Linked DNA regions of Homo sapiens. The protein of the gene in region 2 interacts with the protein of the main gene of each other region in a biochemical or structural test. Each region holds a gene or a part of one and is shown on either strand. Other genes may lie near its edges.

Region 1 (7,024 bases), on a different chromosome or scaffold from region 2:
AGGACAAGTTCTTGCTGTATTTAGACTGCACAGAACTGGTTGGATATTAGAGACCCTGCTCATGACTACCTCACACATACACACACCCTATGTCCCTTCCCCATCTCCCTGTCTCCCTTCCAGTTGTCCATCCATCATGATTGTTGGGGCCACCATGGCTAGTGGCCTTCTGATATGGCTGGTGGAACTTGGACAAGTGTGTGCTAAGTGTATATTTCAGTTATCAAATATTGCATAGCAAACCACCCTAGAACCTAGTGACCCAAACCAACAGCGGTTTCTTATTTCTCATGTTTCCACCACTGTGGCTGGGCTCAGCTGGATGGCTCTTCTGCTGTACCTGGGATTGGCTGGGGTCATGGCTGGGCTGGGCTGGTCTGGAAGGCCCAAGACGGCCTCACAAACATGGGCCTCCTCTGCCTGGCCTCTCCATGCAACTTACTCACATTGGCCTGCTCCCTGGGCTTCAGAGCATGGCAGTGTCAGCAGAGTTGGAGTTCTTTCATGATGGCTGGCATCTAAAAGGAAGTTCTCTGAAGTGCTAGGCCTGGAACTGGCACAGCATCACTTCTGCCTCATTGTGTTGGTCAGCGAGTCACAGGCCAGCCCAGGTTCAAGGGCAGGGAATGCTCCCGGCTTAATGGAGGATCAGCAGGTGCACACAGCGGGAGGCGGAGGTGGTCACTTTAGGCACAGGTTAGGTTTTTCTTTCACAAGTTACAAACGTAGTGGAAACCTAACATAAAAATAGAGGCACAGTAAGGGGAAAATGACTGTAGTTATTCTACCTAGAGACACCTCTTACCCCGTTTCAGTGCCAACATTGTGCATTATATTATATATATAATATTTTTATTACATATAATAAAATACGTTTTATTAAAATTTAGAGAAATACAAACAATATGTAATGCTTCTCTTTTTTTGTTGTTGAAACAGAGCCTCGCTCTGTCACCCATGCTGGAGCGCGGTGGTGCGATCTCGGCTTACTGCAACCTCCGCCTCCCAGGTTCAAGTGATTCTCCTGCCTCAGGCTCCCGAGTAGCTGGGACTACAGGCGTGCGCCACCATGCCTGGCTAATTTTTGTATTTTTAGTAGAGATGGGGTTTCACCATATTGGCTAGGCAGGTCTCAAACTCGTGATCCACCCACCTTGGCCTTCCAAAGTGCTGGGATTACAGGTGTGAGCCACTGCGCCTGGCCTCGTAATGCTTCTTTTTAAAAAACTTTTTAAAAAAAATTTTGTAGCATTACATGTTGTTCATATTTGTCTCTCTCTCTCTGTTTTTTTTGTTTTTTGTTTTTTTTGTTGTTTTTTTTTTTAGATGTAGTTTTGCTCTTGGTGCCCAGGCTGCAGTGCAGTGGTGCAATCTCGGCTCACCACAACCTCTGCCTCCTAGGTTCAAGTGATTCTCCTGCCTCACTCAATCTCCCAAGTAGCTGGGATTACAGGTGTGCACCACCACATCCAGCTAATTTTGTGTTTTTAGTAGAGATGGGGTTTCTCCATGTTGGTCAGACTGGTCTCGAACCCCCGACCTCAAGTGATCTGCCTGCCTCGGCCTCCCAAAGTGCTTGGATTATAGGTGTGAGCCACCGCACCTGGCCAATTTCTCTAAATTATAATAGACTCCTGTATGTATCCCTTCCAAAGACTCCATAACCATCTGCCACCATTCAGTCACCCTGTCTGCTGATGTGGGTTGTTTCCCTTGTTCCTGCTGTTTTCCTTCCATTTCAAATTCTCAGCCATCCTGGGGGAGCGACTGATGAAACAGAGTCGGGAGAGTCCCCCTGGGTGGGGCTCTGGCCTCGGCCTCCCCCCATCCTGCAAGGGCCCCAGAGCTCTCTTGGCGTTGGCTTTTTCCCACTCACTGCACAAGCCTCAGGATGCCAGTGGGAATCACCCAGAACAGACAGGGGTCATGCCGGGGATGGCCCTTGGCCAGGAGCAAGTGCTGACTGGGTGCTGGCCTGTTAGTGTTGTCGCTGGGGAGTCACAGGGGTGCGACTACGGTCCTGGCTGGGTCTCCGCCCCCATGGTGGGGCCGGCCCCTGGCGCTGGACATTCAGGCTGTTTCTTAGTATTTCCTGGCAGAAAACACCATATGGCACATCTTCGTGTCTGGAGGCTATTTTTGTTGTTTTTCATTTTTTGAGCTCTTTAGAAAAAATAAAGGAGTACGAGGTTGAAGGTTTGGACACTTCTGCTTTTCTAATTATAACTCTCATGGCCGCTGGTCCTTCTCCTGTAGCTCGTATGGGGTACTTGCTCTACATATTGCAGTCAGTGAAAATTCTAAGAGAAAAGCCCCCCAAATCGGTACGGTTTTGTCCTGTGAACACGCATGCACACATGCACACACACGCAGTGGGCCCTGCCTGTGTGGGTGTGTTTGTCTGAGCTGGAAAGGGCCTCTAGCCTGATGGGAGGCACAGTCTCAGCACAGTCCTTAGGGTCTTGTCCGGGCTCCAGTTGCCAGTGCCAAGTGTTTGTGCTGAGGTCTCTTCCGTTCATCATGGTGATGACGGCCGGCAGTGAGGGCCCTTGTGCTGGAGCCTCGGAATTCTCTGTTCTTCCAGGCCGGGGCCAGGGCTGACATAACTTGTTTTTTCCATCCAGTCATCATGATTGGAGCCCAGAGTTGGTTGTAAGCTAGCTAGTCCGTCCCTTCCATGATGACTTCCTGCCAACCACAGGGCTGGGAGCTTGGAGCGAGGACAGAGACCCACCGGCCCGATGTCACCCACAGGAAATCTGGATCCAGCAGGGCACATGTGGCCACACAGGCCACTTGTCTAGGAGGGAAACTGCTGGGGCCCTGCAGAAGATGAGGCTGCAGGCTCACGGGTGCAGAGGCGAAGCAGCCTCATGGTCTCACACTCTGTCCGCGGCCTTGGAGACAGCTGTGTGTGTGTGTGTGTGTGTGTGTGTGTGTGTGTGTGTGTGTGTAGCATTTCCCATGTGCCTCCTCTGTGAAAACAGCCCAAATTAATGACAGCAGATGCTGAAGTCTGAGATGGTCAGATGTTAGGAAGGGGATTGGCTGTGACCACCTGGGACCTGCCCACCTGGCTCATGAGGCTACGGCCCAAAGTTGCCAGCTCCTCAGATTTTTCCAGAGCAGCTGGAACCTGCATTGTTTTGTAAAATCTTCAGAATTCAGGTTTTCTGAAAACCCTATGATGGTCCCACCAGTCCCGGTGTGGGCTGAATCTGCTTCCTGAGCTGGGTCCTGCTGGCTGGGTCGGAGGAGCTAAGAGCTGGCATCCCCGGCTTTCTCGCCTTTGTTCTGCTGGGATGTGGTAGGGAGATCAGCTGTGCAGCTTTGACGCCTGGCTCTGGTACCAGGATGGGTGGGAGCCCCCAACCCTCGCTCCTGGGTGCAGAGCGTGGTTGTATCTGGGGCCGGGGCCTCTGACCCCCTGTCCCCGCTGCAGATTGAGATGGCCATCCTGCGGTTCCCTTACGAGTCCTGGGGGACCCCGTTCCAGCAGCTGAAGCAGGTGGTGGAGGAGCCGTCCCCCCAGCTCCCAGCCGACCGTTTCTCCCCCGAGTTTGTGGACTTCACTGCTCAGTGGTGAGTCTTGGGTGCTGCTGAGCGCCTGCCACTGCCCCTCCCTGGCCAGATCCCTGCACCTTCCTGGGCCCTGTTCCTTTATTCCTTTGGCAAATAAACCCCCAGATGACTTGGCATCCAAATATGTAAGGCAGAAACAGCTGGAGCATGAGGAGCATTTGACAAAACGATGGTCTTGGTGGGAGATTTTAATACAGTTCTTCCAGAAGTGGACAAATCAGATAGACTGAAAAAGAGAACAAAGTATATGGAAAATTTGAACACAAAAAACAAGTTTGCTTTTATTGATATCTAGAACTTTGTACCAAATTAAAGAATGCCCCATAGGAGCCTTATAAAAATCATGTTTGAGAGGCTGGGCACGGTGGCTCACGCCTGTAATCCCAGCACTTTGGGAGGCCGAGGCAGGCGGATCCCGAGGTCAGGAGTTTGAGACCAGCCTGACCAACATGGTGAAACCCCGACTCTACTAAAAATAGGAAAATTAGCCGGGCGTGGTGGCGCATGCCTATAATCCCAGCTACTCAGGAGGCTGAAGCAGGAGAGTCGCTTGAACCCGGGAGCCGGAGGTTGCAGTGAGCCTGAGCCGAGATCATGCCACTGCACTCCAGCATGGGTGACAGAGTGAGACTGTCTCAAAAAAAAAAAAAAATCATGTTTGAGGTTACAGAAGGAATAAGGAAGAGGGCAACTTCTCTGAACTTAATTAAATAGAGCAAGAATTGGGTAAGGAAGAAGCGGCCGGGTGCGGTGGCTCACACCCATGGTCCCCGCACTTTTATTGTTGACCATAATCAGCAACAGAGGAGCCCAGCAGAGTCCCTGGGCAGTCTGACCCCTTTAATTGTGGACTAACTTCTCCCAGAACCCATGATAAGGAGTTTCTCTCCTGATTGAGGATACCAAGTGTGTGACTGTTAGGCAGAGCATTGCAGCCCCATTTTGGTGTTGATATGGAAATTCCTAGGTCACTATGCAGACAAGAAAACCAGGACCCCAGGAGCCAGAGAAACTTGCTGCAAGTCTCTAGTTTGCTCCTATGAATGCCCCTCCACCCTGGAAGAAGCCCTAGACAGTCCTGTCCCTTCTTCCCTGGGTGCACGTGTCCCCTGCTGCTAGGCCTGGGGCAATCCTGGGGTGGTTTGGCTGGCCCTTGGGGGCTGGGCTTCCTCCCTGCCAGCCTGGCCACAGCTGCACTATTCTCTCCTAGCCTGAGGAAGAACCCCGCAGAGCGTATGAGCTACCTGGAGCTGATGGTGAGTATGGGCGGGAGGTGCCTGCCCTGCTCTTCAGGGCTGGCTGGGGCTGGGTGGGGCTCTGGGGAGAGGGCTGCATCCTGCACACAGATGGGTAGCTCCTCTGGCTGGCCCTGTGTTCTCTCCTTTAGGTGCTCGGTCATTTGTTTGCTCCTGCATACCTGGCTCCCTCCTCCCTCCTTCCTGCATGCCAGGCCCTGGGAAGGGTACACAGGCAGTGTGTGACAGAATGGGGCAGAGGGGCCAAGGGTGGCATCAGGGAAGGCTTCATGGAGGAGGTACCATTTGAACTGAGCCTGGAAGGATGAATAAGGGTTATCTCCTGATGGAGAGGCTGTCCCAAGCAGAAGGTCCAGCATGGGCAGAGGCCTGACGTGTGGGGGGAAAGGGAGGTTAGTGTGGCTGGAGAGTGACCACAAGAGAGCTGAGGAGGAGCCACAGATGCCATCTGTGACAGTCATGGAGGGCCTCCTGGGGGTGGAGGTCCTAGAAGGATGAGTAGGATTTTGCCAGTCAGGAGAACACTTGGGCTGGAGCTGGTTGGGGAAGAGTGGCCACCTCTCCCTCCCGCTACCCCTCCATGGTGACTGTGCCTTCTGTCACCCCCAGGAGCACCCCTTCTTCACCTTGCACAAAACCAAGAAGACGGACATTGCTGCCTTCGTGAAGGAGATCCTGGGAGAAGACTCATAGGGGCTGGGCCTCGGACCCCACTCCGGCCCTCCAGAGCCCCACAGCCCCATCTGCGGGGGCAGTGCTCACCCACACCATAAGCTACTGCCATCCTGGCCCAGGGCATCTGGGAGGAACCGAGGGGGCTGCTCCCACCTGGCTCTGTGGCGAGCCATTTGTCCCAAGTGCCAAAGAAGCAGACCATTGGGGCTCCCAGCCAGGCCCTTGTCGGCCCCACCAGTGCCTCTCCCTGCTGCTCCTAGGACCCGTCTCCAGCTGCTGAGATCCTGGACTGAGGGGGCCTGGATGCCCCCTGTGGATGCTGCTGCCCCTGCACAGCAGGCTGCCAGTGCCTGGGTGGATGGGCCACCGCCTTGCCCAGCCTGGATGCCATCCAAGTTGTATATTTTTTTAATCTCTCGACTGAATGGACTTTGCACACTTTGGCCCAGGGTGGCCACACCTCTATCCCGGCTTTGGTGCGGGGTACACAAGAGGGGATGAGTTGTGTGAATACCCCAAGACTCCCATGAGGGAGATGCCATGAGCCGCCCAAGGCCTTCCCCTGGCACTGGCAAACAGGGCCTCTGCGGAGCACACTGGCTCACCCAGTCCTGCCCGCCACCGTTATCGGTGTCATTCACCTTTCGTGTTTTTTTTAATTTATCCTCTGTTGATTTTTTCTTTTGCTTTATGGGTTTGGCTTGTTTTTCTTGCATGGTTTGGAGCTGATCGCTTCTCCCCCACCCCCTAGGGTACCAGCAGGCAGAGCCTTGCCCTCTGCTCAGGCTGGGGTCCAGTGGGAGGGGCCCAAGATCTCTGCTCAGAGAAGTGCAGGGGGAGCCTTCCAGCTCACTCTCCCTGAGGACTGGCTTGACAGGGGCTATGGGTTTGCTTTGGTGTTGTTTTTAAAAAAAGAAAATATATTTTTTTGAAAAAACGACTGCCCATCCCGGGTCCTTTCCCTGATGGGTTGGGGCAGTTACCTGGTTGCTGTTTTAATTAAAAAAAAAAAAAAAAAAAGGACTAAAGGTTGTGTGAGATTGTGTATGACACCTGTGAGCCCCCCTCTTACTTGGGGAAGGTTGTGGCCCTTCAAGGGACCCTTGTCTCTGGGCCAGGGGCAGGGTGTCGTGCTCAGGGGAGGGAGGACTGCCAACCTACCAGGCCCTTCTACATCTGAGGACACAGAGGCCCCCAGAGGGCTGTGATGAGGTAACATCCTGTGATCATCCAGGCACCAGGCCCTGTACTGACACTGGACAGAGCAGCGAACACACAGGTCCAGTCTGCTGGTGGCGGCCACCCATCCCACTGTCCTGAAGTAGTGATGACAGCCAGGTCACAGAGCAGCGAGCACCCTGCACACTTTGCCTGGGCTGGACACGGTGACCTCATGGAGGTTACCTGACCTCCAGTTTACAGATGGGAACAACAGACCCAGAGAGCTGACATCACTTACCCAAAGCCACACAGCTTATAAGACAGAAAAACAGACTTGGGGACAGGTGGTG
Region 2 (7,024 bases):
TAAGACAAGTCCTTGGGCCTAAGGACTTTATAACCTGGTATTTCACTCAACTACATGATAGCATAAATAATGTTTGCTTCTGTTTAAGTATTCCTTAAACATTATAGATCTCCCAAAGAAAATTAAATACAAACCTCTTTTTAAAGTGAATTTGACAAAGCAAAATAAATTGGAATATATAGATAAATATGCTAAAATTTGTCATATGTACTTTGCGTACTTTACATGTGTTATTTCATTCTCAGGGCAATCTAAGACAGTCACTTTTATTATCTCATTTTATAGAGAAGAAAGCTGTGCAGTAAAGAAATCAAATACCTTTCCCAAGGTTACAGAGCTAGTAGTAGAGCCTGGATTTGAATCTGGGTTCTGACTGATTTTTAACTGCCATGACAAGGATCAAAGCTCAAAGTGTGATCTCTGTGTTAGAAACATCGGGGTTGCTCTTTAAAAAAGCCGATTCTCAGGCCTCAACCCAGACCTACTGACCCAGACACTGCAAGTAGAATCCATCAAAATGCAGTAGTTACTTTGAGAATCATGAAACTCTGCTACACAGTCTGTCTTCCTATTCATGGAAGTCCTCTCCTAGTATATAAATGTGAAGTAATATTTCTATTTCAAACCTGTATTGATAACTGTCTGGAAGATAATTTTCCTGGGAATATATTATTGATGAGACTGCAAAACAGATGTGAGGTATTGGATTGATCTTTCCATTGTAGCTAGGGAAATACTGATGTTCATTGTTTCAGTGAAGTTCAATGATTTCCTATCCGAATTAACTCCCTTAATTTAACAATTTTTTTTTTTTTTTTGAGAGTGAATGCCCCTCTGGGCTTCTAGGCCACATGGTTGCTAGAGAAATTAGGTACTGTGTTGCACTTGAAAACACTAAAATCTTTCTGACTACTTTCACTGAGCAAAGAGACATAAAATGCTTTAAATTTGCAACATTTCAGAAAATAAATTTTAGTGATTATTTATGACTCGAATCTTTCAGATTTTGACAGTGAAAGTGGAAGGTTGTCCAAAACACCCTAAGGGCATTATTTCGCGTAGAGATGTGGAAAAATTTCTTTCAAAAAAAAGGAAATTTCCAAAGAACTACATGTCACAGTATTTTAAGCTCCTAGAAAAATTCCAGATTGCTTTGCCAATAGGAGAAGAATATTTGCTGGTTCCAAGCAGGTAAAGAAAACCTTAAAAAATTAATTGCTACATGGAAATTCACTATCTATTCTTTTAATTGTCAAACTAACTGTAGTCTATAATAGATGTATTAAATAAATAAATATATTTTGCTTCTAGTGTAAACCTCCTACTGACATGTATCATTTATTTTGGAATAAAACATTGCATCTGACACTTTAACAATATAGTAAATCACTTACTTTATGTGTATAGTTACTAGTTGGCTTATCACTGTTGAAATTATTTAAGAAAGGTAAATAGTGGAGATTAATGTGTGTGTGTGTCTGTGTTTGTGTATGTGTGTGTTCTTAAACAACACTGAGAGAGTTTATTAAGCAAGTTCTGAGAAGATAGTGAGTTTTCAACAGAATTTTAAAAGCATTTATGGCATCACAATGGATGCCTATGTTTTAGCCTATACTATGGAAATTTTTCCTACTGCTCTAAGCAACTGGGAAATTTATAAAGTAATATGATGTTGAAATGTGCAAATTACATTGATTGATGGATGCAGCCAATTTTAAAAATAAATATACACTTTTTTTCTAGGACATGTATTTTTCAGGATTTATATAAGATTACATTTGTCTATGCATAACTAATTGTAATAATTTATGTATTAGTGCACAGGGATTACCGAAAATATTTCATGCATCTACATCTGAGCATGCATTTGAATTGGTTATTGACCACTGAATTTTTGGTGTAGGAAAAATATGTAGTGAAACAATGTTACAAAAAGATTACAATTGTTTGGAATGATTACCTTCATTGACTTTAAGCAGTAAAATCATTTGCTCAACAAGGTTGGGTGTTTTGTGAGGCTGTATAACCATAGTGTCCTTTTGCCTTTAGTTTGTCTGACCACAGGCCTGTGATAGAGCTTCCCCATTGTGAGAACTCTGAAATTATCATCCGACTATATGAAATGCCTTATTTTCCAATGGGATTTTGGTCAAGATTAATCAATCGATTACTTGAGATTTCACCTTACATGCTTTCAGGGAGAGGTAAGTATCTAATGAAGACTTATTAGATTTTTAGAGACTATTAATTTAGACTTATTAATTTTTAGAGAAATTAGGGAGATGGCATATGAAAAGTAATATGCCATTTTCTCAGAGTTTACTTGTTTGGAAGGCAGCTGAAGAATTAGAAAATAAGCTCATAAAACCTTGGAGTAGGCAATCTAAAGACACACAAGCACATATAACCTCATCTAATTTGTCAGGAAGAAAATTCCTTAGGTGCTCACTCAGATCTTGACTGTGATTACATTGTAGGGACTGTAATTATCTCTTTTCTGTTGCACAGCCACTAAGACATTTACAAAAAAAGAGCAAATCCGGTGTTTATAATGCTAACTCTTTCTTCTAAAATAAATAGAGACATTTTGGTACTCCAAAGGGAAAATATCATTTTGGGGATTAAAATTAGCTTTACACAGGTGTTACTGGTTTCCAAAATAAACCTTACCTTGATTGGAATTAATCAACATATAGGTAGTTACATTGCATTAAAAAGTTCAGAAAGTTTTGCGTTTAGCATGATCAAAAACTTCTTTTTAAAAATTATGAGGATTTATTTATGATTTTCTTTCTTCATCTGTCGAGCATATTAAACTGCTTAACAGCATCAACCTGAAATGGATCTTAATGTGCAGGGGATTTAACTCTTTTTATTGTAAAGTTGTGGATAAAATATTTAATAGATATGGATGAGGACTCATATCAGTAACAACCCAATACTTTATTTCAAAATGAATAGATCTGTATTACAATCACTTGTGTTGTGTGCAGTAGATTTTTTCCCTTTAACTTAGGAAGCAGTTAATAATTAATGGCTCCATTTTTTAGAACGAGCACTTCGCCCAAACAGAATGTATTGGCGACAAGGCATTTACTTAAATTGGTCTCCTGAAGCTTATTGTCTGGTAGGATCTGAAGTCTTAGACAATCATCCAGAGAGTTTCTTAAAAATTACAGTTCCTTCTTGTAGAAAAGGTAAGGAAATCAATTTGAATGTTTTCAATTGCAACACTAAAGAAATTTAAACTTAAAAAAAAAAAAAACTTTACCTTAAAGCTTTGCGACAGTATGAGGTTTAGACAAGGTGTTGAGCTCTGTTTTGAATCATGTAGGCTGTATTCTTTTGGGCCAAGTTGTGGACCACATTGATTCTCTCATGGAAGAATGGTTTCCTGGGTTGCTGGAGATTGATATTTGTGGTGAAGGAGAAACTCTGTTGAAGAAATGGGCATTATATAGTTTTAATGATGGTGAAGAACATCAAAAAATCTTACTTGATGACTTGATGAAGAAAGCAGAGGAAGGTATGTTTTGATACAACTTACAAATGCTTTTAAGTGATCCTTCAATACTTATGAAGTGACTTTTAATAAATGTAAATATTCTTATCCATAAGGGATGAGTTGAAAAATAGTATATTCAATTATAGGGACAGTTCAGAAAACTGAATTATATTTATTACCAATAAAATCTTGTATTCTAGATTCAGAAAATGTTGATTTGAGGGTTTGAATGCTGGCTTATTGAGCAACATAACCTCATCTGTGAAACCGGAATACCAACCACATCTATCTCATAGAACTGTTATAAAGATTCAAATAGACAATACATGGACCTAATTTACCAACATGTCTGCCATATAATAACAGCTGCAGCTTCATGAATGTGGCAAAAGCAGAGAGTAGATAACTTTCTAGTCAGATGTCTGGTAGTCTGCAGCAGTTCAGAATTCTACAAGTGAACGTAGGAATAAGTTTTTAAAATTCCAAGTAGATAGATACTAAGTGAATCTTTAAAATGTTCTCAAATTTCCTAGAGAAATATAGGATTGGTTAGAAAGGGAGGGATTAGAAATTATAGAAAATATTCCATTATTTTTTCACATCAAAACCACAAATTTATGTATCTCCTTAAATGTTGTTTTTATTTAAAAAATGTTTTATTACTTCTCAGGAGATCTCTTAGTAAATCCAGATCAACCAAGGCTCACCATTCCAATATCTCAGATTGCCCCTGACTTGATTTTGGCTGACCTGCCTAGAAATATTATGTTGAATAATGATGAGTTGGAATTTGAACAAGCTCCAGAGTTTCTCCTAGGTAATTCTTTTTGTTAATTTGAGAATAAAAATTAGGATGTAATTTTCTCCTTATAATTTAGAAAATAGATTTCATAATTATATTGTCATAGATTTTACTGTCTTCATATATTTGTTATAATTTTTGTATTTGGAATGATATATTTTAAAGGAATATAATATTACAGATCTGGAATTTGTTTTGCACATAATCATGTAGACTAGGATCAAGATGAGGATGAGATTATCATGGAAGCAGAAATATTTATGAAATATATCTTTGTATTTGCCTTAATTGCCAGGGATATGGGAGGCAAATAAGACAGTTTTCAGGTGAGTTAAGTGAAGCAGCCATATTTTATAAAATGACAGAATAGGTAAAGGAAGCACACCTCAGTGTAGCCATAGCAGGGGTTTTATGACTCAGTGTGACAATGCTGAATTCTCATAGAAATATTCATTAAAAGCCTTGAAATTAAAGTCAAAAGTGTTACATGGTGACATACTCAAATACTTTTTTTTTTTTTTTTGATATGCTGAACAATTTACATTTCTTGGTTCCGTGAATTCAATCAGTGATTTTCAGTAGAGTATGATGGAAATCATTGAATTCATGTAGCATGTTTAGGTGCTCATTGAGAAAAGGTGAAGTCATGGTAACCATGTTTCAATATTCTCATTTGTATCTTGACTTCCTGCACATGGATTTTTGGGCCTAAAAGATGTTTTTAAAACATGCTCATACACTTCAGAAGATGAAAAGTGTATGCATTATAACTACTTTGGGAAAGAAACAGTCAACATATGTTACTGTATGTCATTCTGTAGATTACATGTGTGGTTTCTCATGTCTCTCAGAATAAAAGCTAATGTCTTTACAAGACCTGCGATGCTGTGATCTGTCTGGCTCCTCGGTTATCATTTTTAAAAAAAGATATACTTTGTACAAATTTTTTTAATTGACAAGTAAAAATTGTATATATTTATGGTGTACAACATGATGTTTTGATATATGTATATGTTGTGGAATGGAGAAGTTTAGCTATTTAACATATACATTATCTCAAATATTTATGTGGTGAGAACTATTAAAATCTACTCTCATAGCAATTTACAAGTATACAGTATGTTATTATTAACTGTAGGCTGACATACTCAAGTTTTAAACATTCCTGAGAGTCATTGGGACAACTATGAAATGCATTAGATTGATTTAATATAAAGCATTTGAAGACAATTTTGACCTTACTTTGTTTAGTTTTTGTTGTTGTTGTGTGTATACATTTAATTTTAATCAAATTACCCCAGAAATAATGCCTAAGATCTGTCAGTCAGGACATAATATTATTAGCAAAAAGTTGTCCAAAATTTGAGACATGATATTTAAAGCTAAATAAACTCCTTTATACCCCTCTTATTGGCATTGATTGGGAAGTTTAGGTTGAATTTAAATGCTTTGGAACTCAGGAAGTTAATGTATTAGTAATAGTGGGTTAACATAAAATGCTGAATTGTCCTTGCTGAATCCTACATCTTAACCCCAGACTTCAAGGTATACAGGAAAGTACCAGACATGGTGCATCCTTCCTCTGAAGAAATCCCAAACTGTCAGACACAGATCCCTAAAATATTTCTTTTTCCTGCATTAAAATGTGTTTCAGATGAATGGACACGTTTTGAGTAGTGTATGTGGAAACGTCATTTACAAAGTCTGTTTAGTTGGCCAGGTGTAGTAGCTCACTCCTGTAATCCCAGCACTTTGGGAGGCCGAGGTGGGTGTATCACGAGGTCAGGAGTTGAAGACCAGCCTGACCAAGATGGTGAAACCTCATCTCTACTAAAAATACAAAAAAATTAACTGGGTGTGGTGGTGGGCATCTGTAATCTCAGCTACTCGGGAGGCTGAGGCAGAGAATTGCTTGAACCTGGGAGGCGGAGGTTGCAGTGAGCCGAGGTTGTGCCACTGCACTCCAGCCTAGGCGACAGAGCGTCTCAAAACAAAACAAAACAAAAAACAAAAAAGCAAAGTCTGTTTAGCTACCCATATAGGAAAATGTTTGTGATTACTCTCCCTTCTCTAGACCCATGTCCCATAAATCCATAAATCCCATGTTCATTTACAGAAAGCAGTCTAGATAGGAGTTTCTCAGTCTTTGAGCTGTTGCCATTTTGGCTTGGATAACTAACTCTTTCTTATCGAGGGTCATCCTGTGCACTGCAGAATGTTTGGCAGCATCTCTGTCTATCCACTAGATGTCAGTAGTATCTCCCCTTCCCTCAGATGTGACAATCAAAAATGTCTCCGGATGTTGCCAAAGATAAGGGGTGGGGTTGAATACCAGTGATTTAAACAAATTAGGTGTATCCTTCTAAAAACATTTTACAGGTAGCGACTCCAGCATCTTTATATTAGAGTAATCTGGAGAAGGTTATGCCTCTCTCAATTTTCCCTCTTTCCATTTTTATTTGTAGGGCAGCAATGCATTCAGGCTTTTGGTAACTCTTTTTCCCAAGATAGCAGTAACTATTATGCAGTGAGTAATACGACCCACCTTAATAGATATGAATAGACTTGTTTTGTGAATATATTTTAAAATATAAATGTATGGGATTCTGTTCATGCGTCTGAGAAGCCACAGGGTACATTTCCTCTTTGTGGAGCTATTTATTTTTCTGGAGAGCCAAGACAGGTATTTCCACTTCAGTGGTGTGATTTGAGGGGTT
Region 3 (6,859 bases), on a different chromosome or scaffold from region 2:
CATGCCCGGCTAATTTTGTATTTTTAGTGGAGACGGGGTTTCTCTATGTTGGTCAGGGTGGTCTCGAACTCCCGACCTCAGGTGAGCCACCCGCCTCGGTCTCCCAAAGTGCTGGAATTACAGGTGTGAGTCACTGTGCCTGGCCTAATCTCTAGTATTTTTAATGCAGACAGGGTTTCACCATGTTGGCCAGGCTGGTCTCGAACTCCTGACCTCAAGTGATCCACCCTCCTTGGCCTCCCAAAGTACTGAAATTACAGGCATGAGCCACTGCGCCTGGCCCAGTTTTTAAATTTTTGAGACAGGATCTCGCTGTCACCCAGGCTGGGGTGCAGTGGTGTGATCATGGCTCCCTGTAGCCTCAACCTCCCCGAGTGTTGGGATCACAGGTGTGAGCCACCGTGCCTGGCCTCCCCAGAGGCTTTGTTCAATTCCCACCGTCTCCAGAGGTTCCCCCAGGCTGGCCCCCTGCAGGGCCGCTCACCCAGCTAGAATGTTCTCTCTGGTGGGAATGTGCTCCTTGTCCAGTGGGCCCCCCTATTGCAGCCCCCCGCTACAGAGGAGAGGGGCTCCATCTGTTCTATTCACTGCTGTGTCCCTGGCGCCCAGGGCTGGTATGGAACCCGGGGGGTGCTATGTGTTCACCTAGTTGTTGAGAGAGATCCATAGGCACAGGCCACCCACCCACCAGGCCCAACTTTCTCGTTCTCTCAGTTACACACACACAGGCGTGCACCCCCCCCACCCCCGGAGGCCACAGACTCCCATTCAGTGGGGGAGCCCACCTCCTCCTCCAGGGAGTCCAAAGTGGAGCTGGGAGTAAGGGAGGGGGAGGAGGAGGGAGGACGCAGAGGAGGCTGGGCTGGGCTGACCGCTGCTTGAGTGGAGTGAGAGAGAAAGTGAGAGTGAGGGGAAGGGACATGGGGACACACACAGAGCATGGGGGCTGGGGGACGCCATTCTGCGGCCGGGGCAGCGGTTAGGTCAATGGTGCAGATGTCCAAGCAGCGATGATAAAAAGGCTGGTACCTGCTCGTTGGGACGGGGCAGGAGCAGGGCTTAGAGTGATCACAATAACTGGATGGGGAAAAGGAAGAAAAAAACAACACCACGATAAATCACAACAGAAACGACTGATTCGTCCAAAAGAAAAGAAATCAAATCATAAACGAGGAGGAGGGGGAGGCACCGAACTGCAGAGATGGCTAGGAACCGACAGAGATGGGGAGGGCGGGGAGGATGGGATGGAGTTGACACAGACAGAGACGCCTGGAGGGGACTCCTCGGGGGCCTGCCTGCCACCGGCCTCCTAGCTCTGCATGGGAACGGCCACCCCTGAAGGCACCCGGGATCCTGGACTCAACCCTGTCTCATCCACTCAGGGGCCAGGGAGGGCGGCCCCCAGGGGCTAGCAGGGACCCGTGTCTTGGCTGGGCTTCTTGTCTCAGGCAGTGTCCTGCACCAGAATCCCCACCTCCATGATTTCTCTGGACCCCCAAGAGACTCCCCAAGGAGGAACCCACGCTGACTCAGGTCAGGAGAGGGAGGGACAGGAGGGTGTCAGGCTGTGAAGGTCAGGCTGGGTGACCAGGGAATGGGTGGGGTGCCCAGATACGGGGGTACCTTTCTCGCCTGCCATAATGACTCCATAGAGAGAACTAAATAAACTACGAAGGTCACATCAGAGGAGACAAGAGAGAATTTTACTGGGTCAAGAAAGACACAAAAAGGATCATGGGTCAGGGGTGGTGTTCACAGGGTTTGAAAATCTAATTTCCTCCAGCCCAGAGGATTTAGAGACCAGGATCTTGGGGAAAAAGCCGGGAGACTAGATATGGTCAGTGTTCCCAGGCCAGGTGTGTGTGAAGCGAGAGGTACTGATCTAGGATGACAAGGTGTCAGGGAGGTAGGTACCGAGGTGGTGGGACTGATCAGAAAGCAGGTGGATGTATGCTGGGGCGCGGCGGGAGCAGGCCTAGAGTCACACTGGCCCCAGGTGTCCCCAGGTCAGGTGGGTGTGGGTGTGAAGGGAAGGGGAGCCATCACTTGAACACAGGTGACAAAGTCACCGGGCTGGCTGGGGGTCGATGTGCATTTCTGGAGGTCAGACACCACACGCTCACCAAGATGGTGGCAGTGAAACTGGTCACAGGGATTTGCGGGGCCTGGTGTATGTGGGAGGGGGTCTGCTGAGCCCAATGCCATGGTCACTGTCGCCAAGAGGGGGAGAAGGGACCCCCTCCCGTCCCCCCACCTCAGACACGGTCACAGGGAGAGCGAGAGGGAGAATCCTCGGGTCAGAAGAGATGGGGAGGGGCTCTATGTGGTCAAGTAACCTCAGGTGTCCCCGAGCCAGGCGTGCGCGTGTGCGTAGATCGTCGCTGCACGGGGCTGACAAGCCCCCAGGCCGGGGGAGGGGGGCGCCAGACAGTCCCTGAGATGACGAGAGTGGTAGCATCAGGTCAACAGGGACGTGTCTGTGTTTTCGGGGCGACCTGGATGTGGTCACTGTCGCGTGGAGTCGGGGAAGCCCGACCCAGAGGATCACGGCGATGGGGGCGGGTCATCAGCTGGGGGCCTCGCCTGGGTCCGGGAACTGGGCTCCCAAGCCCTGAGGGTGCGAACCCCCCGGAGCTCGCCGGCTCCACGCCCCCCGGGTCACCGTGACCCTCGCCCCGCGAGCCCGCAGCGGGGGGGGCGGAGAGGAGAGCGAGCGCCCCGGAAGCGGGGGCGGGGCCTTGTGGTGGGGGCGGGGCCTCCCGCGGCGCGCGCCCCGCCCCGCCCGCCCGCCCCCTCCCCCACGCCGCCGTGCTTACTGGGCCTGGGCCGCTGGGGGCTGATATCCAGGTTGAGGTCGATCCTCCGCCGGGCCTCCCGGTTCTCCTGCTTCAGCTTTGCTTCCAGGCGGGACAGCTTCTGTTCCAGGGAGGACGCCGCCATCTTCCCCGCCGCCACCGCCGCCGCGCACCGCCCGGCCGCCCGTCAGTCCGGCAGACAAACACCGCACTGCGCCTGCGCCCGGATGACCCCGTCGAGCCGCCGTCTCGCCCCGCACCGCGCATGCCCGCGGCGCGCACCCGCCCTTCTCCGCGTGCGAACCTCCGCGCGTGCGTGCTTCGGCTCAGCCCGAAGGATGACGCCACCTAGAGCTCGAGGCAGGCAACGTGCAACCCCCGCCTTCGTCGCCACCACCACCGTAGTGCGCATGCGCCAATTCCCGATCGCTCCTGAGAGAGGCGCTGCGAGGAAACACCATTCTTCTGAGGACGGTGGGCGGGGAAAACGGCGCGCATGCTTAGCGAGGCGAAGCCGTGTTCGCCCGCGTGGCTTTTGCGCATGCGCATTCCTGGAACCTCGTTCCCAAAGCGGCAGTCGATCCCTGGTCTCCACGGCGGTGCAGCCTCAGCCTCCTCGCTTTTCACGGTCGGCTTGGGCGTCCCTTCGGAATGCCTTCCTCACTGATGGTGCTTTATTAGGATTCCTCTTGTGCTTAATTACCTCCTAGCCTCCTGCTGGCAGCGGGGTGCCGCCTCCTCACCGTAATTAGGCTCCGTCGAGAGCCCTTTCCCTTCTTGCCAGCCCCAGCAGGCTCAGAGTTGGCCGAAGCCAGGGGGGAGGGGACGGCCATGGGAACCCAGCGGTGTGACCCCTGCCCTCGGCGACGGGGCCAAGGTCAAGGCCAGAGTTGTTGGCCAGACCCACATAGAACCTCAAGACACCCCCCTTATCTCTCTCGCACCCGGAACGTGAGCCCAGCGCCTGGACGTGGAGAATTCCTATCTGAGGAGGGGCGCTGGGGTTAGGTGCCAGTGCTTGGGCCCCCGGCAGCCTAAACCACTCCTTTAAGTGGTCCGACGGGTGCTGGGGAAATGTCCCATCTGGAACCCAGGGATCCCCCCAAGAGCGGCTTCCCTCTGCTCTTAGATGCGAGAAGGAAGTTCTGATTTTGCGGACACCCGGGAGGTGGCCAGGGCCAGGCAGACTCTGCCAAGTGCCCTTCCAGCTTCTGGTCCAACGAGGGAACACTTTGGGATGAGAGTTACCGGCTTGTCGGAACTCCTCTGGTGACGATTTGTGGGTGGAGCACACACAAGTGTAGAGTTATAGCTGAGGTCTTTACCTTTCCGTCTTCCAGGCAGCCTTCTGTGCCTCTGCTCTGAGAACATGAGACTCATCCTTGATTCTGGCACACGGGTGTTACTTGGTCACATGAAATAAAAGGTTACGGGCATGGTGGTTCACGCCTGTAATCCCAGCACTTTGGGAGGCCGAGGCGGATGGATCACGAAGTCAGGAGAGGACCAGCCTGGCCAAGATGGTGAAACCCCGTGTCTACTAGAAATACGAAAATTAGCCGGGCATGGTGGCAGGCGCCTGTAATTCCAGCTACTTGGGAGGCTGAGGCAGAGAATTGCTTGAACCCAGGAGGCGGAGGTTGCAGTGAGCCAAGATTGCGCCACTGCACTCCAGCCTGGGTGACAGAGCCAGACTCCGTCTCAAAAAAAAAAAAAAGAAAGAAAAACAGGGTCTTGTTCTGTTGCTCAGGCTGGAGTGGAGTGGTGTGATCACAGCTCACTGCAGCCTCAACCTCCTGGGTCCTGGGCTCAAGCAATCCTCCTGCCTCTGCTTGCCTAGTAGCTGGGACCTCAGGCACACATCAGCACACCTGGCCAACTTTTTTTTGTATGTTTTTGTAGAGATGAGATCTCACTATGTTGCCCAGTTTGGTCTCAAGCTCTTGAGCTCAAGCGATCCTCCCACCTGAGCCTCCCAAAGCGCTGGGATTACAAGCATGAGCCACTATGTCTGGCCCTAATGGACGGTGTTAGACAATGACAGGAGTGCACATAAGAGATCAAAACTAGAACTTGCATAATTAGTATTATTTATTAAGCACCCAGAGAACAGTCAAGACCAAAGTCCCTGCTTGTCCTTGGAAAAATGTCACCTCTATAGCAGGTGTCCTAACCCTGCAGTCCACCCACCTTAGGAAGTCCTTGAATAGCTCTCTGGGGGAAATCTATCAGCTGCCTGAAGAGCTTTGTGTGTATTTGTACACCAGCATTTTCCTGAGGAAGGAGGTGCCTGGCTTCATCAGTTTCTCAAAGGGTCTAGGACCTCAAAAGGGATCAGAATCTAGATATTTGGATACCCTATTTTTTTTTTTTTTGGCAGAGGTGGGGTCTCGCTATGTTACCCAGGCTGATCTCGAACTCCTGAGCTCAACCATCCTCCTGCATTGGCCTCTCAAACAGCTGGGATTATAGTCATGAGCCACAGCGCCCGGCCCTGATACCTTTACGTCAGCATTTCCCAACATACTGTCTCAGGGCCACTTACCTGCACCAGAACTACCTGGAATATTTAGGAACAGACTCCTGGCCCCCAACCAAACCTCCTGAGTCAGTGTTTCAGGGGAGGGGACTGGGATATTTTGTTTTGCACCGACTCCCTAGGTGATTTTGATGCTTAGCCAAATGAGAACCATTGTTCGGAGCTAACATATAACACAGCAAACAACTGTGTCTGTGTCCTCTCCTTGGGAGAGAACTCCAGAAGTAAGTTGCTTTGTTGCATGGGGAGGGGGAGTGTTGGAAATCCCACTGGGATGTGTCGTTTCCCCCATATGTGGCACTAATTGAGCTGGAATATCCAGGGAGAGGCAGCAGTTCTAGGGATGGGAGCAAGGCCAGCCAGCCTGCCAGAGACACAGGTGTGGTTTTGGTCGGAGAATGCCATGACTGAGTTAATCCCTCCATACCAGGTTCCACCCCAGCTCCACAACATCCTGTCTGTCTCCCCAGACAAACCAGCCCAGATCCTCCTGGGCCCCAGAAAGATGACACAGCTGCCCCCGCCCCCCCCATCTCCTGGCCTGGACCCACTTGGCTTCCTATCTTGGAAGACAATGGTTGAGATTCCAGGGCAGAAGCATTTTTAAGGCTCTACCTAAAACGGCCCCACCCCAGCTTCATTCCTCCTCCATCTTGTCCCGCACTTCTGCCGGCAGACCCTGGTAAAGCGTGTCTTCCACCAGGAGCCCCGCCTTCTTGAGCCCCCCACAGTTGCCAAGTTCTTCTGGCAGCGCCTCTAAGCGGTTGCCTTTGAGCTCCAGGCGGCTGAGGGCTCTGAGGGCACCCACGTGGGGCGAGAGCTGGCTCAGCTGGTTGTCGCCCAGAAGCAACGTCCGCAGCTTGCGGCAGAAGAAGAGCTCTTCGGGCAGGGCCTCCAGGGCATTGTAGGAGAGGGCCAGGTGCTGTAGGTTCTGCAGGAGGCCCACCTCGGGTGGCAGGGAGTGTAGCCCATTGTGGGACACATCCAGCAGACGGAGGCCTGAGCACAGGCCGAGCTGGGAGGGCAGGGTCTCCAGCTTGTTGTAGCTGAGGTAGAGCTGCTCCAGGCTCCTGAGCTTCCGCACGTGCTCAGGGACGTAGGCGATCTGGTTGTGCCACAGCCTGAGCGTGACCAGCTTCCGGCAGTGCTGGAAGCTGAGGATTTCCTCGATGGAGCGCAGGTGGTTGTCCTTGAGGTCAAGTTCCTGCAGCGCACCCAGGCTGAACACTGCATGGGGGATGCGCTCCAGCCCGCAGGCCACCAGCTCCAGCTCCCGCAATGCCGCCAGCTTCTTGAGGCTGTTCAGGGCAACCAGACGGGCCCCATCGTTGTGCAGGCTGAGCCTCTGCAGGTGGCCAGCAACGTCGGTCACACTGGCTGGCACCTTCCCGGCGTTGCTCCGGAGGGACAACACCTTGAGCTGCTTCAGCTCCCGGAGGCTCTCCAGGGTGGCTGCCCGAGCTAGCTCCTGGGGGAAAAGCCCCTCCAGGTGCAGCTCCTCCAAGCCCCGCAGCCCAAACACCCA
Region 4 (7,024 bases), on a different chromosome or scaffold from region 2:
AAGGTAACACAGTTGCCAATCCTTACATTCCTGTCTCTGGCCCTCACGATGCACAGTACAGGAGAAGCTCAGAAGCCTCCTGAGCTCCCAGGAGTGTTAGACTTAGCATGGACCACTCCACTGGCCAGGTAGACACAGGAGTGGAGAGGTGGAAGCCAGGCCAAGAAAGCAGGTCCCTTCAGGCCAGAACTTAGTGGGAGAGAGGGGCAGCCTTCCTGAAACTGGCTGTGGGTGACCTGGAGGGACCTGGGCTGTCAAGGTGGCTTTCCTCCCCTTACACACACACACACACACACACACACACACACACACACACGATGTTCTCTCCATTCTGTAAAGTGAGAGCACCTTCACCACCGACCCCATTCTTTCTCTTTCACTCAGAAATTGTCCCCTCACTCCCTGCCCCCAGCCATGGCCTGGAGCAGGCCATTCACAGTTCTGGGCGGGGAGGGGCTGTACAGGTGGGACTGCACCTTCAGGACATCAGACGTGAGGGAGGAAGCGGGATTCCGGTCATAAAAACCACCCCGTGGCCCTCTCGAGACTCGAGGTTTGAAGCTGGAGCTGAGAACAGCAGGTATCTGTGGAGACCAGCAGTCTGCCCTCTGCAGTGGCCTAGGACACTAGTGGACAACTGCCTTTAAAAAACCACAGCAGCCTTTTCTACTGTGTTGGCTGCAGAGGCCAGGAACGCTGGCCTCTGCGTTTCTTAGAAATATCCCTGTGCAAATATCAAGGGGTCATCCTGTAGAAAGGGGTCTCCATCTGGGGACTCGGGAGGGAGAGACACTGAGGGGGCAGGTCCGGCCTGGCCCAGTAGGCTGAAGGGCAGAGGGTGGGGCTGGGGCTTCACATTTCAATCTTTGGAGAGAATACTGAGAGGAGGAGGCAGGCAAGTCCTGCCGGCAGGCTGGCTGCCCAGTGTGCCCTGCCTGTGGGCGTAGGTGGCAGGCATACTTGGGGTGGGCTCAGCAGGTGGAGGTCTGCTTTCGGTAGAGCTGGATCAGGGGCACCAGGCACTCAGGTAGCCCTGTCTGCAGCAGGAAGGGGTGGTCTAGGAGCTCCTGGGCTGTGGCTCTCTCTTGGGGGTCCCGCACCAGCATCCGCTCCAGGAAGTCTCGCAGCACTGGGGAGACCTGTAGAGGCAGGGCAGTAAGATGAAGCCACAATTTGCAGTCACTTCGGGGTGACCTGATTGCCTGGACTTATCATTGTTTGAAAGTCATGAATTCGCTGGTTTTTTAACTTCCTGTTCCCTTGTCCCTCCCCACCCCCTCAAGGCTCTCAGCATTCAGATGCTATAGCTCTGTGGAAGGGGCAGAGGATTGGCATCAGTGATCCAGATCTGGCTCTATCCGTGATCTCAGGCAAGTCACAGTTTTCTCTAGGCCTCAGTTTTCTCATCTGTAAAATGGGCTAGTGATAAAGTATGCTTGCCCTGTCTGCCACATAGGGCTTTTGAGATTTTAAAAACAGGTCGCTGGGCGCAGTGGCTCAAGCCTGTAATCCCAGCACTTTGGGAGGCCAAGTTGGGCAGATTACGAGGTCAGGAGTTCGTAGACCAGCCTGACCAACATGGCGAAACCCTGTCTCTACTAAAAATACAAAAATTAGTTGAGCATGGTGGCACGTGCCTGTAATCCCAGCTACTCAGGAGGCTGAGGCAGGAGAATTGCTTGAACCCAGGAGGCGGAGGTTGCAGTGAGCTGAGATCGCACCACTGCATTCCAGCCTGAGCAACAGAGAGAGACTCCATCTCCAAAAAAAAAAAAAAAAAAAAAACCAACAACAACAGAAACAAACAAGTCAAGGATGAGGAAGTACTCTGAAAAATAGAAAATAAAGTGAGACCTGAAAAGGAAGATTTCTTTGTTGCTCTAGGCCTTAAGAGTCTAAAGCAAGGGCTTATCTTGGTTCATTTTGAGCCAGTATCTTGGGATGAGGCTGAGTCTTGGGCAGAAGGCTACATCCTCTGAGGAATTAGCCAACTGGAGATCTTTATATGCTAATTTTGGGGTTAGCGGTGCGGGCTCCAAGGACCAGTTGTCTTGGAAGATGTTTCCTGTTGGTCCTCCCATCCAGCTTTGTGTTGGGGCCACAGAACTCTTGTTTTTTTGCTATTTTAGAGGAGAGGCTTCAGCCCTCTGAGACATTTCTTGTTTTGGCCACCAGATGGCGGTGCCACTTAGCAGCCCCGTGCTGACCTGCCAGCAGGGGGCGTCCACAGTAAGGCCTGCGGGGTTGGGGCCGATTTGGCAAAAAGGGTTACATGTATACACTTCCATGCACTTATACTGGCTTTAAGGGGAACGCTGTGGCTTAGCTGTGTCGGGGTGTGCAACGATGGAGCATGAGCCGACTCGCCGTGATGGACAGGGACATCGAATCATGGTATGGATCTCCCGACACGGGTTAGAAGGGTTTGTGCTCAGTGAAGCTTCTCCGGATCCCTCCCTGGACAGCAGGGATTGCTGGTGTCCTGGCTTTCCCTGCTCATGGGCCCCACTGGGCTTCCGACCAGTGCCTGCCAAGCAGCAACCCTTCTGCCAAGCAGCAACTCTCCTGCCACAGCCGTGGGAGGCGACTTGTCGGAGCGCACATGCGAACTTGTGCGTAGATGCGGCTCCACACCCAGGTGCGGGTTTTGTGTGGGGAAAGAGGAGCCTTTTCCAGGAGCCCAGACCCTGTGGCTTCAGTGGAAGGGAGATGCTGGGAGCCCAGGTTCTGGTCCCCTTGCCTCAGGAGGAATGGGGTCTGCGAGGTCGCACCCTTGTGTGCCAACTGACCTTGTGAGAGTTTTTCAGCTTGGGTGGGGGGCTGTCCCGGAGCCTCTTCATGGCTTGCACTGGGGAGTCACTGAAGTACGGTGGCTCCCCATCTACCATCTCAATCACCATGATGCCCAGAGACCAGATATCCACCTGCAGGAGGAAAATGTCCCTGACCCCATGGCCAGACCCTGGCCCATTGGTAGCTGCGTTCTGGTGGCAGCAGTGGTGGAGGGGGGACAGCTGGCCCCAGCTCTCCTTGGTGGGTCTGTCTCCTTCCTCCCCTGGTCACCTGCCCTGTGGCCAGTTACTGCCTGCATGAGTGACCACTGCCTATAGGGACACAGCTGTCAGTCACTCAGAGAAAGGCCATCATACATAGGAGGCCCGGCCATACCCCATTCTGCCCTTGAGCTGAGGAAAGCACTTGCAGGACTCGTTCCTGGCAGCAAAGTCACTGGGTAAGAGCAGCCCCATCGAAAGGGGGAAGGGTGTTGACTAGGTGGGACTCTGAAAACCAGGGCTGCTTTTGGTGAGCTCACTGGAGGGGCCACAGCAGAAGAGCTGCCAGTTGCCAAGTTGCTTTTGGGAGGTCTGGGGGGTGGAGGGAACGGTTACCTCAGTGGCATACAAAGACCTGGAGATCACTTCAGGAGCCATCCAGTAGGGGGTTCCCACCAGGGACTTCCTCTTAGGGACGTCTTTGCTGATCTGAGCACAGAATCCGAAGTCCGAGAGCTTCACCTGCGGTTGAAAAGGGAGTGAGTGGTGGATCAGGAGGAAGTGGGAGCGTGGCTGTGCCAGGGACAGGATGGGACCTACCCTGCCATCGAGGGTCAGCAGGATGGAGTCACTCTTGATGTCCCGGTGGATGACACCCTGAGCATGCAGGTAGGCCAGGGCCTGCAGCACAGCCTCACACACAGTGGCAATCTGCTCCTCATTCAGCCTGGACAGGAAGGTGGGGCCACCCGATGAAAGAGAACGTTAGCTCTGGCAGGTCGTGGGGTGGCTGAGCAGAGTAGGAGTCCCTGGTGCTAGGCCCCACAGCTCCCAGGCAATCTGTTTGGCAGCACAGTCAGGCCATAGCCCTGGTGAAAACTGGGGCCTGAGCTTTGGCTAGAAGCTATCCTTCTCTTCTCCACTCCCAAGACCCCTGGGTCTCAGTTACCCCAGCAGGCAGGGGAGCCCAGGCATCCCAAGTCTTCTGGGCCACAGGCAGAAGACCACATTGCCCTGGCAGGGCCATGGTGAGGGCAGCCTGCACTCAGGGTCCAGCCCTCCCAGCTGCCCACCTGACTTGGGAGACGATGTCTGTGAGGGCTCCTCCCTGCAGGAACTCCATGAGCACCCACAGCTCCTCGCCCACCAGGTAGCTCTTGTACATCTCCACCACGTTGAAGTGCTGGTAGTCCCGCATGATCACCACCTGGGGGCAGGCGGGGGCCTGAGTGCCAGGCACAGTGCCCAGACGCATGGCCACCCACTGCCCCTGCTCACAGATGTCCAGCCTGGCTGGCTGCTCACTGCCCATCCCCAACGCCCCCGTCTGTGTCCCACCCTGTCCTCCCACCTCGTTGAAGAGCAGCTCCCTGCGCTGCTGCTTCCTGAGGTCCATCATCTTGACGGCCACCTGGCGGCCCGAGTGCTTCTCCCGGGCCAAGCAGACGATGCCGGTGGAGCCCTCGCCAATCTTCACGTAGCTGTCCAGCAGCAGCCGGGGGTCACCCTGGTCCACCACCATCCTGAGCGCAGCCTTGAACTGCTCATGTGTCACAACACCTGTGTCCTCACCAGCCAGGGCACCCTTGGCAACCGTGGGGTCCTGGGGCAGGTACAGGTTGCTGGTGCTGATCTGGGCGTGCCAGGTGCGGGGGGATCCCGCTGGGGAAGACCGGCCTGGAAGCTGGCCTGTGGCCGGGGCTGTGCGGAGGGACTTCTGGGGGCTGCTGGTATCCGAAGTGGTCAGAGGGCTGAAGGTCCCCACCGGCTGGTCCGAGGGCAAGGACTGGGCCTTGGCCACCAGGCTTGGGGGGTTGTCTTTCTGCGGCGGTCGGAAAGAGGAGTTGGGCTGCAGGGACAAAGCAACAGGAAGGGTCAGGGCTGTGGGAGCATTTGGAATAACCTTCCCGGAGGCAGGGGCTGGCCGCCGTGACCTCTGGACTCTGGCAGGGTCAGGCGGGGTATCAGATCAAACTAGGGAGGTGCTCTGAGCAAAGATTTTCAGACAGAGCTGAAGCCCAGTCACAGTCCTGTGCCAGCAGTCCCCCGCAGGGCACCAGGCTGGGCAGGCCCAAGACAGCTCCTTACACTCGCTCTGCTGCACCTGGGAAGACAGAGAAGGCCAGCTCCCCGCCGGGTCCTGCGCTGGGTATTTCTTCCTGGGCGATTGACAGCTAGACCCCAGGGAGGCTGCCGTGAGGCAGACTCTTCCTCTGAGCTCAGAGGCTGCTTGAAGAATCTGGGTCAGAGGCATTCTTCACTCCCAAGGCTCCCCCACCCCAGGACCCATGGGGGCAGAAGAGGCCTGGCAGTGGGGTGGGGAGCAGTGGGCAACTGTGTCTCCACTCCCTGAACCAAGGCAGGGGAGCCACACCTGGGGCCCGATAGCCCTGCCTGTGCCTGCAGCAGGGAGTTTGCAAATCTGTGCTGGGAGGTTATGTCCCTGACAGAGGACCACAGAGGTGTGTCACCATCTGGGGGGTTCTCAGGTGTCTCCCCTGGGCTGGGAATCTGGTGCCAGAGAGATCTGGAGTTAGGAGGGTAGGTCCAGCCAAACCCAAGCCTTGAGGCCAGGGATGGGGAGATGTCTTAAGGACCCCCTAAAGGAGTCCTTCCACTTCCTCCCTGGCATGAAACTCCTGGCTAAGGAGCCCCCGGGAGGGAGGAGAAGGTAGGGGGCCTATCCTCATTGGCTCTGGCAGGGAGGGAGGAAGGGAAGGTGGAGCTGAGGGGCAGCCTGGGCCCCCAGTGAGCCCTGCTCAGGCCCAGCCCTGGAAGCCTGCGAGGCTTCTTGCTTTTCCGAGCCCAAGCCCTTCTGCTCTTTCTGACAGGAAAGGTGCCCGCCCATCTTTGGGTTCTCCCCAAGGAGCGGTGATATGCACCATGACCCCTCCCAGGGATTACGTGTTTTTAAAGGGCACCTGGAGAGGGATGCTTCAGGGGATGCAGAAAAAGCCTTCTAGGAACTTCTCCAAACCCATCATGTAAGCCATTGTCTTAGGTGCCCAGTGGGTCCTGGTCCTGATCCCATAGCTGAAACAACTTACAGGAAATCTCAAGCAGTAAGTTTGGGCTGGGATGCTTGCTCAGGGACCCCAAACCCCAAATCTGGGCCTTGGGCCCCACCAGAGTCTTTTCAGTGTCTTTGGCAACCCTCACTCCCTTCCTTCCCCGACCCCCCGCAGCTTCAGGGCTTCTACTCTCCAGCCAAGTCCCTGGCCTGCTTAGGGTGGAATAGGCACTCCTGCTGGCCGACAGCCATGCTGGGGCAGACTTCTGCCACCCCCACACCTGCCTGCCCACCCGAGTGTGTGCTTGACCTTCACAGGAAAGAAGCTAGCAATCCTCCCAGGACTGCCTGGACTCACTCCATCCCTGATGAGTACATTTGGACAGTAAACATTCTCCCATGTCCTCGCCAGCACCTGACTGTCACCATCCACTGTGACACTGTGACACTGTCACCATCCACTGTGTAGTGGAGCAGTGGGACCCCTGGACTGGGCTGTCAGGACCTGGGGCCCAGCCCTGGGCTGCTCTGCCCTGTGATGAGCCTTAGGCAAGTCATCCTCTCTGAGCCTGTCTCCACTACAATGCAGGGACGTGTGCAGAGATCTGGGGAGCTAGAGAAACCGCAGACTTCCCGCCTCAGAGCCTGATTCGGTGGGAGCCTAGAGCAGAGACTGCATTTGAACAAGGTCCCTGGGTCCTAGGAGGCCCATGGAACATACTTTGAGAAACTCTGCATAAGTGGGCAGTATGATCTTACGGCCTCAGGGAGCCTCTGGGAGGGCTGTGAGGGGGGTGGAGGGCGCATGGCCATGACTGAGGCTGTGATACCAGGTCCTGGGAACAGAGGTTCCATGAGACGTCACCAGGCAGGGACAGGGAGGGAAGTGGGGCAGGGCTCACTGCATCACACAGTCAACCTGTAGAAAGGCTCGGGGCTCTAAGGAAGCTGCCTGCTGGCCTGAGTGTGGACTTAACTCAGAAAACATGCTCTCCAGGCACCCATCCAGGTGGGTCGGGGC

The links.
Region 1: of the proteins of LRRK2 (region 2) and MAP2K3, one has a biochemical effect on the other in vitro, tested with the Homo sapiens proteins (2 studies listed by BioGRID).
Region 3: of the proteins of LRRK2 (region 2) and MAP2K7, one has a biochemical effect on the other in vitro, tested with the Homo sapiens proteins (2 studies listed by BioGRID).
Region 4: the proteins of LRRK2 (region 2) and PAK6 form a complex in vitro, tested with the Homo sapiens proteins (2 studies listed by BioGRID).

Annotation. Positions count from the first base shown.
Region 1 is NC_000017.11:21,308,700-21,315,723, forward strand, and holds the end of MAP2K3 (dual specificity mitogen-activated protein kinase kinase 3), read left to right. Parts: intron 1-3,442; coding exon 3,443-3,582; intron 3,583-4,792; coding exon 4,793-4,838; intron 4,839-5,447; coding exon 5,448-5,531; coding exon of another isoform or gene 5,532-5,611; 3' UTR 5,612-6,533; downstream 6,534-7,024. UniProt on the Homo sapiens protein: Dual specificity kinase. Is activated by cytokines and environmental stress in vivo. Catalyzes the concomitant phosphorylation of a threonine and a tyrosine residue in the MAP kinase p38.
Region 2 is NC_000012.12:40,318,985-40,326,008, forward strand, and holds part of LRRK2 (leucine-rich repeat serine/threonine-protein kinase 2), read left to right. Parts: exon of another isoform or gene 1-991; intron 992-1,003; coding exon 1,004-1,191; intron 1,192-2,049; coding exon 2,050-2,204; intron 2,205-3,050; coding exon 3,051-3,197; intron 3,198-3,334; coding exon 3,335-3,526; intron 3,527-4,175; coding exon 4,176-4,322; intron 4,323-7,024. UniProt on the Homo sapiens protein: Serine/threonine-protein kinase which phosphorylates a broad range of proteins involved in multiple processes such as neuronal plasticity, innate immunity, autophagy, and vesicle trafficking.
Region 3 is NC_000019.10:7,900,026-7,906,884, reverse strand, and holds the start of MAP2K7 (dual specificity mitogen-activated protein kinase kinase 7), read right to left. Parts: upstream 3,009-6,859; 5' UTR 2,941-3,008; coding exon 2,817-2,940; intron 1,078-2,816; coding exon of another isoform or gene 1,030-1,077; intron 1-1,029. Other genes in the region: volume-regulated anion channel subunit LRRC8E, read right to left, coding at 5,972-6,859. UniProt on the Homo sapiens protein: Dual specificity protein kinase which acts as an essential component of the MAP kinase signal transduction pathway. Essential component of the stress-activated protein kinase/c-Jun N-terminal kinase (SAP/JNK) signaling pathway.
Region 4 is NC_000015.10:40,270,042-40,277,065, reverse strand, and holds part of PAK6 (serine/threonine-protein kinase PAK 6), read right to left. Parts: intron 4,843-7,024; coding exon 4,345-4,842; intron 4,201-4,344; coding exon 4,067-4,200; intron 3,721-4,066; coding exon 3,594-3,720; intron 3,516-3,593; coding exon 3,390-3,515; intron 2,925-3,389; coding exon 2,790-2,924; intron 1,140-2,789; coding exon 972-1,139; 3' UTR 1-971. Other genes in the region: BUB1B-PAK6 (serine/threonine-protein kinase PAK 6), read right to left, coding at 972-1,139, 2,790-2,924, 3,390-3,515, 3,594-3,720, 4,067-4,200, 4,345-4,842. UniProt on the Homo sapiens protein: Serine/threonine protein kinase that plays a role in the regulation of gene transcription. The kinase activity is induced by various effectors including AR or MAP2K6/MAPKK6.